3 linked regions of the Homo sapiens genome follow. The protein of the gene in region 2 interacts with the protein of the main gene of each other region in a pairwise test. Each region holds a gene or a part of one and is shown on either strand. Other genes may lie near its edges.

Evidence for each region.
Region 1: the proteins of ATPAF2 (region 2) and IKZF3 interact in binary tests that used the Homo sapiens proteins (3 or more experiments, as listed by UniProt).
Region 3: the proteins of ATPAF2 (region 2) and PRDM14 interact in binary tests that used the Homo sapiens proteins (3 or more experiments, as listed by UniProt).

What each region holds. Positions count from the first base shown.
Region 1 is NC_000017.11:39,763,305-39,770,343, forward strand, and holds part of IKZF3 (zinc finger protein Aiolos), read right to left. Parts: intron 3,190-7,039; coding exon 2,486-3,189; 3' UTR 1-2,485. UniProt on the Homo sapiens protein: Transcription factor that plays an important role in the regulation of lymphocyte differentiation. Plays an essential role in regulation of B-cell differentiation, proliferation and maturation to an effector state.
Region 2 is NC_000017.11:18,022,165-18,029,203, forward strand, and holds part of ATPAF2 (ATP synthase mitochondrial F1 complex assembly factor 2), read right to left. Parts: intron 6,496-7,039; coding exon 6,451-6,495; intron 6,214-6,450; coding exon 6,068-6,213; intron 4,253-6,067; coding exon 4,155-4,252; intron 2,541-4,154; coding exon 2,460-2,540; intron 1-2,459. UniProt on the Homo sapiens protein: Plays a role in the assembly of the F1 component of the mitochondrial ATP synthase (ATPase).
Region 3 is NC_000008.11:70,051,143-70,054,283, forward strand, and holds the end of PRDM14 (PR domain zinc finger protein 14), read right to left. Parts: intron 1,163-3,141; coding exon 935-1,162; 3' UTR 509-934; downstream 1-508. UniProt on the Homo sapiens protein: Transcription factor that has both positive and negative roles on transcription. Required for the maintenance of embryonic stem cell identity and the reacquisition of pluripotency in somatic cells.

The sequences.
Region 1 (7,039 bases), about 22 Mb from region 2:
ACATAGACGAGTTGAGTTGGAGCCGAATGCATAAGCCCCTTAGAAATAAAACACTAATCTACCAGGAATTTGGGATTCTTGGCTCTGGTAGAAATGTTACAAATTAAGCTGACTCTTAATTTGTAAATAGGCTCCATGAAGTTGTCCCTGGAAGCAGAATTTATTTTCCCTAACATAATTTCTTAAAAAGTAAAAAAAAAAAGAAGGCTTTGGCAAACAGCTGCATGTGCCAATTTGTGTGTATGCTTTGTGGCAAGATCAAAATACCTTTCTGTTTTTTGTTCCTCTCCACCACCTTCTTCACATTCACAACTCAGTGGTTAAAGGAAAAACTTAACACACCATTTTCATACCAAAGGAATGTGAAACATGTATTCATATAAATACTCTTCTGCTTAATATCCATACATTAGGAGGTTTAAAAAATACCTTGTGGTTACTGCATAATCACATATGAATTAAAGCTAGAAGGGACCTAAGAGAACATTGAAATCTAATTCCTATTTTATGGATGAGGAAACTGAGTTTTTTTTGTTTTTGTTTGTTTGTTTTTGTTTTGTTTTGTTTGAGACAGGGTCTCACTCTGTCGCCCAGACTGGAGTGCAGTAGTGTGATCTCCACTCACCGCAACCTCAACCTCCCAGGCTTAAGCGATTTTTCTGCCTCAGCCTCCGGAGTAGCTGGGATTACAGGCATGTGCCACTACTGCCCAGCTAATTTTTGTATTTTTAGTAGAGACAGGGTTTCACCATGTGGGTCAGGCTGGTCTCGAACTCCTGACCTCAAATGATGCGCCTGCCTCGGCTTCCCAAAGTGTTGGGATTACAGGTGTGAGCCACCGAGCCTGGCCGGAAACTGAGTTTTAAGAGTTAAATAAGGCTGGGTGTGGTGGCTCACACCTGTAATCCCAGCACTTTAGGAGGCTGAGGCGGGCTGATTGCTTGAGCCCAGGAGTTCAAGACCAGCATGGGCAACATAGTGAGACCCCTATCTCTACAAAAAGAACAAAATGTAGCCAGACATGGTGGTGTGCACTTGTTGTCCCAGTACTCAAGAGGCTGAGGTGGGAGGATCACCTGAGCCTGGGGAGGTCGAGGCTGCACTGAGCCATGATTGCACCACTGCACTCCAGCCTGGGCAACAGAGTGAGATCCTGTCTCAAAAAAAAAAAAAAAAAAAAAGTTAAACGATTTCTCAAAGTCACATAGCTAATTAGCCAGCATTTTGTGACCTCCTATTCCAGTGCTAATTTTACCATGATAACAGCACTCCTCCTGATAGTATGTACATATTATGAGTGACAAGGATGACTTATACATCTGCAGAACCGTGATCAGACTTTCAGGAATTTTCATGGAATACAGCAGTTCCATTTAAATGGGAAAAAAAGGGCCGAAGCCTGCCTGATCAAGGAGAACCTCTCAATAGAGGTGTCCCTCCTCACCCCATTCCGGAGCTCAACTCCGATCTAAACACACATGCCATCTATCTCCAATTCCTCTCCTGTGGGGAGGGGGAGGCTGAGCCATACTTTTTGGACTTTTTTTGTGGAAAATATCATTGGCAAATTTGCTTTGGGTCTGTATCACCAATTCTCCATGAACTCTTTCAAGAAGTTTTAGGTAGCTGTTTTTTGTTTGTTTGTTTTCTGTTGGTGCTGCCAAACAATTTCCCCCTTTATACCCTTGCTCTGCCAACCTTGACCAAAGGAAAGCGATGTCATCATCCACAGTGGATAAATTTCTGGAGTTTCGATGATGGTCTATATTTAAAACCATGAGTTCTTCTGGCATAGATTTTCTTCTATAGACAACTGGTTTAGCCCAAAGCAGCTCAGCTTTTCACTGGAGATGGGAAGGTAAAGGACAGAAGCAGAAGTGCCATCAGATGACATTTTTTAAAAATGTTGTGATAGGAAATGGATCTGATGCTTGGAGAATGGGGTCTTCAGTTACTCGTAACAGATACTTATTTTATGGCTGTTCTTTTACTTACTCTTAGACTGTCATTTAGATTAGGGAGATTAGATCTTAACCCTTCAGCCTGTGAAGGGCAGAAGGGTGAGGCTTCCCAGCAAGGTCAGCTGGTCAGCTCTTCCTCTTTGTGGATTTGCATGTATGACTGAAAGGCTTTTCCACGTGTGGTTGATATATCTCAGAAAGAATGTTTCATATAGCACATCTCCGGGACCACTCATTCCACTGCTGTAGAAGATAATGACCAAATACCTTTTTGGCTTTTAAATTCCATAAAATTCAAGTCCCTGATGGGAAAACAAAGGTTTCACAAAAGTAATAATATGCTAGACCTGCGAATAATTTCTGAAGGAAGACAGTGTTTCCCTGGCTACCCCTGTGAACACAGCTAAAAATGGTATGAAAAGAAGTTTGGAACTGAGTATGTTTTGAGAGCAATCTGTTAGGCGAGGTCATTGGTTTTTAGAAACGATGCTGAATACATAGGAGCAATCCCTGAGACCAGATATTCACTTCAGCAGGGCTCTGTGTTCTCCTCTGGCTATGTGAGACGAGAACTCATACCGATCATGGCTTCGATATCCACACATGTTACACTCGAAAGGGTCACGGAAGCCGTGGCAGCCCATGTGAATCGTGAACATCACATAGTCCAGGAAGAGGACGCGGCAGTGGTCACACCGATACACATCCATCACCTCCCCTTCCTTGTTGATCACTTTGACGGAGTCTCTTGGGCAGATGGGCGGGGGCTTGAGGAGTTCGTAAGAGCGGGGAACCTCCTTCAGAAGTGGCATCCCATTGCGGGCCCGAGACAGGACCATGTGATTTTGCTGATAGATGTGATTCTGGCGTTCTTCATGGTTGCTGTCAGTGTCCGTGGAGTCGTGGCCACTATTGTTGGGAGAGAGGCCTCTCTCAGAAGGCACGCTCTTCTCTGGAAGGTGGATGCTTTTCTTTTCCAGCTCTTGAGGGGCACCGTTTGACATCTCAGCCCGGGTGAGGGCTATGGGATACATGCTGCTGATAACTGGAACCATCTCCGAGGTGGGAGCAGGCGGTGTCTGGACCAAGGGGCGCAGGGCTTCGGCGCCAAGATAGCTGATGGCGTTATTGATGGCTTGGTCCATCATGCGGGTCTGTATGAGCTCACTCTCTTTCTCATACATGTAACTTGAATTATAGTTGACATCAAAGCAGTGGCGCTTCTCACCTGGAACAAGTGACAGAAAGGGTTACAAAGGGAACACTGCCAAGGCAGAGAGTTTGTAAATATTTTCTAGAGACCTCAAAAAGGGAGGAGAGTTAAGTTGCCTGCTGCTCAAGAAGACCAAGCCTGGCAGAATGGTTTCCCATGGTGCTGTCTCAGGGGACACTGGTCGGCAGCAACGTGTTTGGATGGTTAAAATAAAGCCAGCAGGCAGAAGAGAGGGGCAGAGATGTGGTTCAGTTGAGGCCACATGGTAAGGTATGCCCACTGTGCATGTTAGAGGAGAGCCCTCAAGAAAGGAGGGAAAGAAGCAGGACACTAGGATGGGGCTAGAGGGACAAGGGAGCCACCAGCCCACAGGAGCCTGGGACTTCTGCTATAGTTCATGATCTCTTAAGACACAGTCGGCTCCCAACTCTTATTTTGCTTTTGCTTGTTATTTTCTGCTTGCAATATTAGGTAGCCAGGGGGACAGAAGTGCTGCAAAGAGTGGGGACACTCGGTGCCTCACCTCGGCAGCTTTTTAAATAGCTACAGAGATAGAGAAAATAGCCCCCCAGACTCCAACTGGCTACTCCCCAAACTCACCCGTCCTGGCTGACTGAGACTGAAGTGAAAGAGCTTCAAATGTAGAAAGTTTGAGAAAAGTTTTCTTGAGAAGAGATCATGGTCTTTGTCCCTTTCCTAACGTGTGTTTCTCTTCCTTTGCTTGGCAAGTGTATCTCTGATACACATGTGATCATTAGGGCCTATCTCACACTTAACTGAAAAAATATACTTGTGGTCACCCTCTCCTACTTCTCATGTCAAACTGCTGAGAAGTTTTGAAAACAGAGTTTAGCCACCTTCAGAGTGTGTGGGTGTTGTGTGTTAGAAAACAGAGGCTCTCTGGTCACAGGGAAGGCAGGGATGGGGACTGCAGTGAGGGCAGATGTGCTCAGTGGTGAGTGGTGGGGAGAGGGGAGAGAAAGCGAGGAAGTGGAGCCGAGTGCTGGAGGTGAGGCTGAGGTCACTGTTGAGCCTCTCCATTCTGTCAGCTTGGATCCTGGAGGGATTTGCTAAACCATATCCTTCTATAATGTTTCCTAGTCATGTTGAGATTCCAAAATTTGTCACTGCCCTACAGTAAAGGGTTCAGCAATGAAAATAAAGAAGAAGAAGAAAAAATGCCATGAGAAAACAAAAGGATTGGAAGAACCAGTTCCTGTTCTTGAGGTGTCTCCAACCTAGTGGATGAGAAATAAGACCTATATATATATAGAACTCGAGAAAAAGTATAAGTTAAAAGTTGGCCGGGCGCGGTGGCTCAGGCCTGTAATCCTAGCACTTTGGGAGGCTGAGGAGGGAGGATCACTTGAGCCCAGGAGTTCGAGACCAGCCCGGGCAACATGGAGGAACCTTGTCTCTACAAAAAAATACAAAAATTAGCCAGGCATCTGTAGTCCCAGCTACTCAGGAGGCTGAGGTGGGAGGATCACCTGAGCCTGGGAGGCAGAGATTGTAGTGAGCTGAGATGGCACCACTGCACTCCAGCCTGGGTGGCAGAGTAAGACCTTGTCTCAAAAAAAAAAGTTGTAAAAGGACTGCTTTGCTCTATGGAGGTCTTTGCTTTTATTCTAAATGCCCACATTTGAGGCATTTAGGCAGGGAAGTAACGTGTTCTTTAAAAAGAATAATAAGGTAACATACAGGCATCGGTGAGACAATTTGGTATAAATTGTATATTTAGGCATTAAGGGAATGCAGAAACTTCAGAAGTACTTGGGGAAGGGAAAGCATTCTTGGAAAATCTAAATTTTGAGAAGGGTCTTGAACTGGAAGAATTTAGATTTTCAGAGAAGCGGGAGAGGACATCCTAGTTGAGGGGGAGTGCAGGAATGAAGGCAGAGAGGTGGGACTACACGGGACGTGTGCAGAAAGCGAGTCTGGCTGAAACGCGATCAAGAAGTATGAAATACAGTATTTCTCAGGCTTCACTCTTCCTTCACATTCTGCAATATCCACACACCAGGGCAGTGTGGTGGTTGAGAGAATAAACTCTGGTGTCAGATGGGCTGGGTTTGATGCTGGCTCCATTGGTCACCAGTTTTGTGACCTTGGGCAAGTCACTTAACCTATGTTCCGTGTCCTCATGTAAAGTGAAGATAATTGTATGTACCTCACAGGGTCACTGGAAAGCACTTAGAACAGGGCCTGCCACATGGAAAACACTTGGTAAATGCTTGGGTTTTTTTCCTCTGTTTGATTTGGTTCACATTTTCTTTCTTTTTTTCTTTTTCTAAAATAAATGTGGTTTTTAAGGAAACTTTATATCACTAACATAAACGGAAAACCAGAATCACTTTCCACAAGTAGAAGGTAACTATGAAAAATAAAGACAATGAAACAGAGCATTTCATTAAATTTTGATCGGATACTACTGTGAGTACTTGGAGACTAAGATCCCTTCCCCCTTTGTTAAAAACAGAGATTACCAAGTGTGAGATTAGTGTTAAAGACAACTGGCATCAAATTAAGTCTAAATTTTTCTCCTTAGTATGATCCAGGAGACTGAAAGAGAACTGGAAAGAAAATAATTATCCTGCTGTGTGGACCCAGGTTTTTAAATGCTCCATGTGCTTGCTGGCAATTTGCATCCTACATTTGGGGAAACACTGAAAAAAGATAATGCATGGTAGGACCGAATGGTGGGCATTCCGAATGGCCCACTGTAGGGTGTGAATCCGAACCAAGAGCCAAGGCTACCTGCCCTTGAGAAAGACAGGTTTGTGGTTAACGTAACAGCAATGTGTAAGGCAGACCAGAACAGTGAGAAATTGGAGCCAGAAGAACCAGCTAAAAGATCTATTCCCATGAGATGAATTTGTCTTTGCATCCCCACAAGCAGCTGACCTTAAGGCCAACCTGATAGTTTCCAGAGAAATACCTGAGAGAGAAAAAAAATATGCAAACGAAAATACCCTGTCTTGGAAACTCAATGAGAAGCAACAGCAGAGTAGACCTTGGCCAAAGTAATCAATGTTTTTTATTTTCAGTTTCCAGATTGGATATATCTTTGGTCAAGGCCATCTGGAAGACTGAGAACATGAGAGCCAGCTAAGGTCACAGACATTCATTCCCTAGAATGTGACACAGAAATGATGAACTTCGGTTTCTTGGCCTTTTTAAGGTTATTGGTTATTTTCCACTGTGGCCACCTCTATTCATCTCCCTAAATACCAGGGGTCCTTGAGAAACTTTTTCTCTTTTCACCCAACAGAGAGGCTCCAGAAGGTTTCTGGGTGGGGTAGGCACATCACAAACTCTGATTTTATCCTTTCTCCTAAGAGTTTGCTTTACTTAACAAGGCCTACAATTTCACAATCTATACCACCTGCAGCATATGTCAGAAAACAGCTGAGTGCTAAAATTGTAAAAGGCAAAACATTAAGAGGAAGATAAACCCCTGGATGAGTGGAAATATGTGACTGAATTCTGTAGTTAACACAGACCATTGTTCATTGTTAAGGAGATGGGGCAGCCTCAGATGTTCACGTGCATGCAACTTGCAATCATCAGATCCCCTCGTCTCTGAGTTACGGTAACTTGAGCAGTGCAGATGATTATCAGTCACCTGTAGACACGATGACTCAATGTGTATGAAACCCAGAAAGGGTAAACTACAGTAATTGAAAAGCCAACAGCTCACGTTTCTTTAGTAACACACTCATAAAAAAGGTTAGTCAAACCACAAAAGTGTAACTGCTTCCAAACCTGCACGGAGCATCTGGTCCAGCTTCTAGTCAAAATCACACCACGCCTTTGAATGATTCATGATACCAGCTTCAGGCTGAATTAGAGGTCTTCTTCCAAC
Region 2 (7,039 bases):
AAAAGGCCATCTGCCTTTTACATCTCTTTAAAGTTTTTCACATTTGAGGACATATAAAAGTTAAAAACAATATTTAAAATGGTTTTCCTTAAAATAATGTTTATGTCATATATCATGGAGGTTTTCTTTTTTATTGAGACAGGGTCTCGCTCTGTCACTCAAGCTGGAGTGCGCTGGCATGATCTTGACTCACTGCAGCCTTGACCTCCTAGGCTCAAGCGATCCTCCCACCTCAGTCTCCCAAGTAGCTGGGACTACAGGCATGTGCCACCACACCTAGCTAATTTTTTTTGTAGAGACAGAGTTTCACCATGTTGCTCGAGCTGGTCTCAAACGCCTGGACTCACGCGATCTGCCAACCTCAGCCTCCCAAAGTGTTGGGATTACAGCCATGAGCCACCATGACCAGTCAGCAGTCATTTTTTCAAACTTTTTTTTTTTTTTTTTTTTTTGAGATGAAGTCTTTCTTGCTTTCTACCCCAGGCTGAAGTGCAGTGGCATGATCTCGGCTCACTGCGACCTCCGCCTCCTGACCTCTGCGCCTGGCTGAGAAGATACATTTTCAAGAATAATCATAACTAAATAAAACAGAAAAACACAATGGGGGATAAAAATAATTTTTGTAATTTTCTTCCATATATCACTGATTTTTTTCTGTTGCTTAAAAAAATCCGGCTGGGGCCGGGCGCGGTGGCTCATGCCTGTAATCCCAGCACTTTGGGAGGCCGAGGCGGGCGGATCACGAGGTCAGGAGATTGAGACCATCCTGGCTAACACGGTGAGACGCCGTCTCTACTAAAAATACAAAAAAAATTAGCCGGGTGTAGATGGTGCATGCCTGTAGTCCCAGCTACTTGGGAGGCTGAGGCAGGAAAATGGCATAAAACCTGGGAGGCGGAGCTTGCAGTGAGCTGAGATCACGCCACTGCACTCCAGCCTGGGTGACAGAGCGAGACTCCTTTCAAAAAAAAAAAAAAAAAAATCCTGCTGGGTGCAGTGGCTCACACCTATAATCCCAGCACTTCAGGAGAATGAGGTGGGCAATCACTTGAGGTCAGGAGTTCGAGACCAGCCTGGCCAACATGGTGAAACCCCATCTCTACTAAAAACACAAAAATTAGCTGGGCGTGGTGGGCGCCTGTAATCCCAGCTACTTGAGAGGCTGAGGCACGAGAATCGTTTAAACCCAAGAGGTGGAGGTTACAGTGAGCCAAGATCGCATCACTGCACTCCAGCCTGGGCGACAGAGCGAGACTCCATCTCAAGAAAGAAAAAATAAAAAATCCTTGCTGAAATTCCTAATAGTACAAATGGACTGTAAGAAATGGCTAAGTTTTTCTATAAACTCTTAAGGATGAGGTATTTCCTGCCACAAGAATCTGATGATTTTATACTATAGCAAAGATCTCTAGGCACCTAAATTATTATTACATTTCATTAGATTCTGAAATGACACTGTTTTGTCACATTCCCACATAGTATTGTAGTCTGGTCTTTAGAGCACTGCCTTTGCCTTCTCTTTTAAGACCCAAGGACACCTGCCACATTGTGAGCATCGGGCAGCATGTGGCAAATCAGTGAACTGATTGGTAACATCACTTTTGTGGAAAACTGCTATACCAAGAAATGTGCCTTGCAAGCTTAGAAAATACCACAGTCAAGGTAGTACCATGAAAGCCAGCCCTTCCAAATTTCCCTTGGGATCAAATGAAATTGAATTTATTTTGCCACCACATCAATAATCCATTCAACTTTGCACTCAAGAGTCTTCCTATTAAAGAAAAATATTTCATATCAATTCCTGGAAGCTACATATCCATTGGATGTTACCCGTAATTTTGCAGGAAGCTATCCAGACTTTTCTCCAAGTGCATACATATCGTATATGTTGTTCTGTTATTTTATTTAATAGTACAGCAATTGTGACAAAGATTAAAATCACTGCCAAAATTTGAACATTTACTGTGTGCTAATAAGCAGGATGCTAAGCCTTTACATGCATCAATTCATTTATTCCTCCTCAAACCCTGAGAGGTAGGGATTATTAGCCCCATTTATAGACAAGAAAATTGAAGCTCAGAGAGATCAACTCATTAGCCAAGTCACACAGCTGAGTCTTCAGCAGAGCTGGGATTCAAACCGACACTGCTGCTCTGACCCGCTGGCAGAAGGTGGCCTGGGAACTCCACTGCTTCTCCAAGGACACAGAGCTGCCCCTACACTTCATGAACCGCTACAGCAGGTGTGCTGTACCTAGTGGCTGAAATTAAATTTGAGGTGCTTTTTTCCCAGGATGACCCTATCCCTGATCATATGAGGGGAGCCAAATCCCACGAGTGCTCTGAAATCAGAAAGCTGACTAGCTAAGGGCACTAGTTTTCCAGCGTGACCCCCTGACCCCTACACTCCACCAAACGCAGGTGCCCAGTCAGTGCTTTCTGCAGGGCTGTACATCTTACCTTTTCTCAGCCCATTCGATGATTGGATCCCACTCATTCCTTTGAAGTTCCACTAATGTCTCGGGCTCCTCCACCCTGTAGCTAATTCATTGTAAAAATAACCTTCATTAATAAAAAAGTACAATTCCTTCATTCAGTGATAGAAAAGGAAAAACACAAAGGACAACAGCAAAAACTTCACCACCACCATCCCAGCCCCACAAGTCTTTTCCCCTAAAGCAGTGGTTCTCAAAGTGTGGCCCTGGCACCAGCATCGCCTGGGAACTTGTTAGAAATACACATTCTCAGGTTGCATGCCTACAGAAATCAGAACCTCTGGAGGGGGGCCCAGCAATCTGTTTTAACAAGCCCTCTAGGGGATTCTAGTGTAAGCTTGAGTTTGAGAACCACTACCCTAAATGCCCCCAAATATTTGACAGGTCCAAGCTTGCCACACTGTTACTGCCATCCTAAAGCAGATCCAATCTACTAACTGCAACCCTGGGTCCACACCCGCTTGACCCAGATGCTGAATGGGAATGCTGTGCCAGATGCTCAGTCTTTGCATCTCTACCCTCACCCCCTCCAAGAGACTGTGCCCCTGGTCACAGACCAAATAGCCTGTTTATACCTCATAAGTCCACCCACCTCCTGGCTACAGATGCAGCTGCTGGCACAGATGCCAGACCTGATGGGACCAAGCTAGAGGTCAGGCTGTGCCATTTGTTTGACCAAGAGACACAGACATGAGCCAGTTGAGAGGAGCTGAGCTGCAGGGCCTCATGGGATGGGAATCCAAGTGGGCACTATGGAAATCCACTGTCTTGTGTAAGCAAAGTGGGGAAGAGAGGTCATGAGTTATGCAGGAAAAGCTGGGGTGCTGGGAGGGGCAGATGGACAACCAGCCTTTCCTCCCTCACCTTCCTCTCACCCTAGTAGGGCACAGGGAGGAGCTCTGACATTGGATCTTCCAGCTACCTTTCCTGGTGACCCAACTGTCCTTCATTTCCTGTCAGGATCCCTGTATAGTTTTCAAGAATCCCCTTTTTGTCTGAGCTAGGTTGAATGGGTTTCTGCTCCCTGCAATCAAGTGAACCCTAATATAAATGGAGTGGGCGTTCCCACTAGCTATGGGTCACCCCCTTCGAAAGCACGCCTCCAGCCATCAGTGCTGACTTCCTGTGTCATCGTGAGATGACTCAGGATCCTAGAGCACTTGGGCTAGCAGGCACGGTGCTGCTCAATCATTTCCATTGTTTCTCAACTTTCCTTTGGCATCACTGAACAATTAGCCAAGAAACATAGACACAGAGGAGAATTCAGAACTGGAGAAGGACACTCCTAGTTATCAGCATCCATAGTGCCAAGGATGCTTTACCTGAGAAAGTGTCGGTGGGCAGAAGTTTAAGGTCACAGGCCCCCCTAGGCCTAAGGGGCCTGTGGTCACGGCACCTGCAAGAGCTGCATAACCACCCTCCCAGCCTAAGGAGCAGCTTCTGGGCTAGAGAAGAGGGGTGGCCATGTTCTGACACCATTGTAGCCCGAGGAGTCCTCCTCCTAAGGGGCTACAGAGCAGCCAAGTGCCAAAGTCAAGTGGGCCACCTTCCTTGTCCTTGCAATAAATGGAGAGGGTTTCTTCTTCCACTGATAACCATCTGGGCAAATCAGGAAAAATAGCCTCAATCCAAGGGGAATGCCCATCTAAATGTCCATTACCAGATGGTGTCGGTGTCCAGAAACTTCACGGCTGCCCGGATCAGCTGATCCTTGTTTCTCTGGGTTGGGTTGTCCAATGATGTGTTGCACAATGTGGTCTGAATCAAAGGCAAAAACCACCCTGTCACTGCCTGCGGGGCTCAGGCAAAAGCCCTGCTTTCCTGAGGACACCACATCTGACACATAGCAGACAGCACCACAGCACAGCCCTCCACCAGAGGCGTCTGCATTACCGGAGCAGCAGCACAGCTACTGAGAGTGTGCCACAACCAGGCTCCATGCCAAATGCTTTGTGTTGACGCTCACAGGACTCGAGGGAAGCTTGCAGCAGCCCCAGGATTAGTGAACCTCCCCCATGGTCACATGCCTTTTATTACCAGGCTCTAGTGTATTTAATTTAATCCTCACAACAACCTTTTGGAGTAGGTACTATTATTATGTCCATCTGGGATGTGAAAACTGAGGCCCAGACAGGTTAAGTACATTGTCAAATACAGTTAATAAGACATGTATTAGTGATGGAGCTCAAATCTGACTGGAAACCTTTACCAGCTGCCTCCCTTACACCTTAGAAAGTAGGGAAATAGCCCATGCAAATCGGGATCAAGATTATTTTTTTCGGCCAAGTGTGGTGGCTCACGCCTGTAATCTCAGCACTTTGGGAGGCTGAGGTGGGCAGATCACCTGAGGTCAGGAGTTCAAGACCAGCCTGGCCAACATGGTAAAACCCCATCTCTACTAAAAATACAAAAATTAGCCTGGCATGGTGGTGGACGTCTGTAATCCCAGCTGCTTGGGAGGCTGAGACGGGAGAATCGCTTGAACCCAGGAGGCAGAGGTTGCAGTGAGCCGAGATTATGCCATTGCACTGCAGCCTGGGCAACAGAGTTAGACTGTTTAAAAAAAAAAAAAAGATCTTTTTTTTTCCAGACTTACCTTGTCAATAATAGGCTGCTTAGGTTACCCTATTCGTTTGTAGCCCTAATCACCCTAATTTCACTAGGTTGTCAAGGACCAGGCCAACCACCTCAGCAGGCTGTGATGTTGGGAGGAGGCCCACCTGGGTTTGCAAAGGTTGAGCACAGCAGCGGCTGGGATGATAGCAGCTGACTCCTGTATTGACTGAGTGCCCAGTCAGTGCTGGGGACCATGCCAAGGGCTTTCTTGCATCATCTCATCTCATCCTGACCACAGCTCCGTGAGGTGGGTACTATTATCACTCATCTTTAATCGGTGGGGAATATGGGGCTGCGAAAGGGGTAGCAACCTGCCCAAGGTTACAGTTTAGAAGCTGCAGAGGCTGGACCTAAGAGTGTAGCTGGGCCCTTCCTTCCCCAGGCAGCCTTGGTGCCTAGGCGAGCCACTTTGGTGTGGACGAGGGGGCTGGTTCTATAGGGAGTCTTCCTCACCTCACCCATCTGCCTCCAGTGGATCTTATATTCAACTAATATTTACTGAGTACCAACTAAATTACCTGCTAGTGGCTGTCCAGACACTGATGAGTAAAACAGACATGGCTCCTGCCCTTCTGTTGCTTACCAGGCAGTGGAAGAGACAGACAATAAATGTGCAAACATAAAACAATTATAAATTGCCTAAGTGCTGACAAAACAAATGGCCAGCTGCTGTCATAGAAAATAAGAGAGCTGGGCAGTCAATGAAGGTGACATCTGTCCTGAAACCAAAGGAGAAACCAGCCATCCAGCACAGTGTTCCTAGGAGAGAGAGCTGCAAGTAGCCGGGCCAGACAAGGAAAGAGTTTAGCACGTTAGTGACTTGAGAGGAGGTGAATCCCTGGGGGCCAGACAGGCAAAGGACCAGCCCCCAGGGCCTTGTCGGAATTTGGTAAAGGGTCTACCCTACGAAGCCCTGGGTGGGTCTCAGGGTCCAGGTTCACACTGTGAACTTGTTACCAGGTGCATGGTGTAGTACTTGATGGTATCCTGCTGGGAATCCCACTCAGTAGCCACTGCAATGGCCAGGGCCTCGCTGGGGACGGTAAAGAGCTTGGCTTGGGGAGTTTTCAGCTTCCTGTGGTCCAGGTTTATCTCAAAGCCACCTTGAAAGATCAAATGAAAAACTCTCAGGGATTTGTTAAGTGGAATCAAGTGACCATTCCTATATTTAGCCACTTGAATTGGTGCAGACAAAGCCAACTCTGAGTCCCTTACAGAAATATATCTCACAAAAAGCAGGAAGGATAATCGCACCATGAAACCAGCTGAAGATGAAAAATGTTCCCAACCATTCACAAAAAAAAAAAAAAAAAGAGGCAGTCAAAATTTCAGACACTCACCTTCACCCTGTGTGATGCTGACATTCTGATAAAACCTCTTCCTTTCTGTAAGAAAGATTTTTCAAAGAGGCAGTTTAAAATAACGTTGAGACAACTCAGGAAGCGACAGGACCAGCTTGTATCATTACTGCTAATGTTGATTGATTGGCTTGATTTTCATATCCCCATTCAAGGTCTGCCCTACTCAACACGGTATAATCAACCGCTTCTGATTAAAGCTGGGGGAAGGGAACATCTGATCTCCAGGGAGAAGGGAGGAACAGAACATGCTGGTCATACCTCTGCCAGCCCCGCAGCCTGGGGACAAGTCTGATCAGGAGCATCTCGGCATGCTCTCCCACCCTCCCCACCACCAGTGCCACCTCATGCCAGCACAACGAGTTCAAACCTAAAGTCGGTGTCTGAGTGGGACAAAGCTAGAGACCCATTTCAGGCAAGACTCTGATGCCTCTAAGGAGTGAGTGGAAAGCCAGTGTGCGTGCGCAGGGTGTGCGTGTGTGATACATCGGCAGGATACAGAGCTCCCAAGGGCATTTCCCATCCCCTCTCTCCAATTAATTAACCTAATTAACCAGCTTGCTTGTGTATC
Region 3 (3,141 bases), on a different chromosome or scaffold from region 2:
TAAATTAATATTTATTTATTTAGTGGGGTTTTTGTTTGTTTTTGTTTCTGCCAAGTGCACAGTATGATAAGCGAATTTTTAGAGGATTTGTTCTAGGCCTGATGCAGTGGCTCACACCTATAATCCCAGCACTTTGGGAGGCTGAGGCCAGAGGATCAGTTGAGCCCAGGAGTTTGAGACCAGCCTGGGTAACATGTTGGGATCTGCCTCTCTGTATAAGAATCTTTTCTATAAAGAAATGTAACACGTGATGACCGCATTGTATAATTGGGGGCCCAAGGCAAATAGTAGAGAAAAAGCTACCTTTTTCTCAGATCATTGCAACCTCCGCCTCTGGGTTCAAGCAATTCCCCTCCCAAGTAGCTGGTATTACAGGCATGTGCCACCACACCAGGCTAATTTTTGCATTTTTAGTAGAGACGGGGTTTCACCATGTTGGCCAGCATGGTCTTGAACTCCTGACCTCAGCTGATCCGCCCATCTGGGCCTCCCAAAGTGTTGGAATAACAGGCGTGAGCCACCACACACAGCCAACTGCAGGGACTTCTATAACCCATAAAAGGAAATAGAGAGAATCCGAATCTCTTGTTTTTACATTGTCTCCACACTCTTGAGGGCTACTCATTTTTTTTGTTTTGTTTTGTTTTGAGACAGGGTCTGGTTCTGTCACCCAGGTTGAAAAGCAGTGGGGCGATCTCAGCTCACAGCAACCTCCGTCTCCTGTGCTCAAACCATCCTGCCACCTCGACCTCCTGAGTGGCTGGAACCACAGGCATGTGCCACCACCCCCAGCTGATTTTTGTATTTTTTTGGTAGAGACAGGATTTCACCATGTTGCCCAGGCTGGTCTCGAACTCCTGGACTTGAGTGATCCACCCACCTCTGCCTCCCAAAGTGCTGGGATTACAGGCGTGAGTCATTGTGCCTGGCAGGGCTAGTAGTCTTCATGAAACTTCATGTGGGAGTAGAATGTTTCTTGATCTGAGAAGATTTTCCCACAGATGCTGCATGAGCAGCCATCATCCTCCTTGTGTGAACGCCGGACATGGCTGTCATGGGCAGCATGGGATGCAAAAGATTTACCACAGTACTTGCATTTGAAGGGCTTCTCCCCGGAGTGCTGCCTGATGTGTGTGCGGAGTATGCTGGAGGCTGTGAACCTCTGCAGAGAACAGAAATACAGAACACAAGAAAAAGTCAACTTCCACGAGCTGGACAACCAATTAAACTAAGGGGTAAATTTCACTGTTGCTCATCCTTATGGACGAACCTTGGGTTTTAAGGCCATAGAGCACTCCTGGTCATCATCAGTAGCCTTAATCCGAAAGGACTCCACTGATGTGTCCTTCTGGCTAGTTTTGAGAAGCACTGGATGTTAGAACAGTGGTTCTTCAATGGCTAGATTATCTGGAGGTCCAGTTTGTAAAAAAGCAGATTGCAGGCTGGGCGCAGTGGTTCACACCTGTAATCCCAGCACTTTGGGAGGCCAAGGCAGGTGGATCACCTGAGGTCAGGAGTTCGAGACCAGCCTGGCCAACATGGTGAAACCCCATCTCTACTAAAAATACAAAAATTAGTCAGGCATGCTATCGTGCACCTTTAATCCCAGCTTCTCAGGAGGCTGAGATGGGAGAATTTCTTGAACCCAGGAGGCGGAGGTTGCAGTAAGCCGTTATTGCACCACTGTACTCCAGCCTGGGTGACAGAGTGAGACTCTGTCTCCAAAAAAAAAAAAAAAAAAAAAAAAAAAGCAGACTGCCAGCCTGGGCAACATAGCAATACCTCACCTCTACAAAAAGTAAAAAAATTACCTAGGCATGGTAGCATGTACCTGTGGTCCCAGCTATTTGGAAAGCTGAGGTGGGAGGATAACTTGAGCCAGAAGGTCAAGGCTGCAGTGAGTTATGATGGCACCACTGCACTCCAGCCTGGGTAACAGAGCAAGACCCTCTCTTTAAAAAAAAAAAAAAAAAAAAAAGCAGATTACCAACCCCACCCAAGAGAGTGTGACCCAATAAATCTGACATGAGACCCAGGAGCCTGCATTTAAACAAGCAATTCTGATGCATGTGGGTCCTAGGATCATACTTCAAGACAAACCTCATTACAGAAAGAGAAGCTAATATCGACCAGAAGCTAATATCGGCCAGTGTCTTTGCATAAGTCAGTGCCTTACTGGTTTTCTTCTTCTTCTTCTTCTTTTTAATTTAAACTTTTTGAGATGGTTTGTAGGTTTGTTTTATTTGTTTGTTTGTTTGTTTGTTTTGAGACAGAATCTCACTCCATCACCCAGGTTGGAGTGCAGTGGCACAATCTTGGCTCACTGCAACCTCCACCTCCCAGGTTCAAGCGATTCTAGTGCCTCAGCCTCCCAAGTAGCTGGAATTACAGGTGCACTATGATGCCCAGCTAATTTTTCTATTTTTAGTAGAGATGGTGTTTCTCCATGTCGGCCAGGCTGGTTTCAAACTCCTGACCTCAGGTTGATCCACCCACCTTGGCCTCTCAAAGTGCTGGGATTACAGGTGTGAGCCACCACGCCCAGCTCAGTGGTGTTTTTCTATGCCCATTATTTTCATTCTATTGACACACACTTTGGAGGTATTAGTTGCTCTAATCTGGTAGACTCAATGTTTTATTCCTTTTGAGAGGCTTAGAAGTAGCTGTAGGACAGCCTCTACTCCTTTTACGGCTTTACTGTAAAAAGCGTAAATGACTCAGTGACTGAAAACATAATCTATACCAGTGCTTTCCAACAGGACTTGCTGCAATAATGGGAATATTCATTACCCACGCTGTCCATCTTGGAAATCAATGGCCACATGGAGCCATTGAGCACTTAAAATGTGGCTAATGCAACCTAGGGAACGGAATTTTTCAACTTTACTTCGTCTTTACTAATTGAAATAGCCACATATGATTAACCGCGAACTGCACATTGGGTAGCATAGAGCTATTTTGGTGTAATATGTCTAAAGCGTGGTCAACCTATTGTTTCTATTATAGCAACCTCTAACCACATGATTCATCTCTGTTTTTACAACTCTGTATTCTGTGTAACATAGACTAGATGCCGCTTCTGCAATGCTCCTATAGAAAATTACATCAGTAGCATCCTTCACAGATTAAAGTAGTAATAAT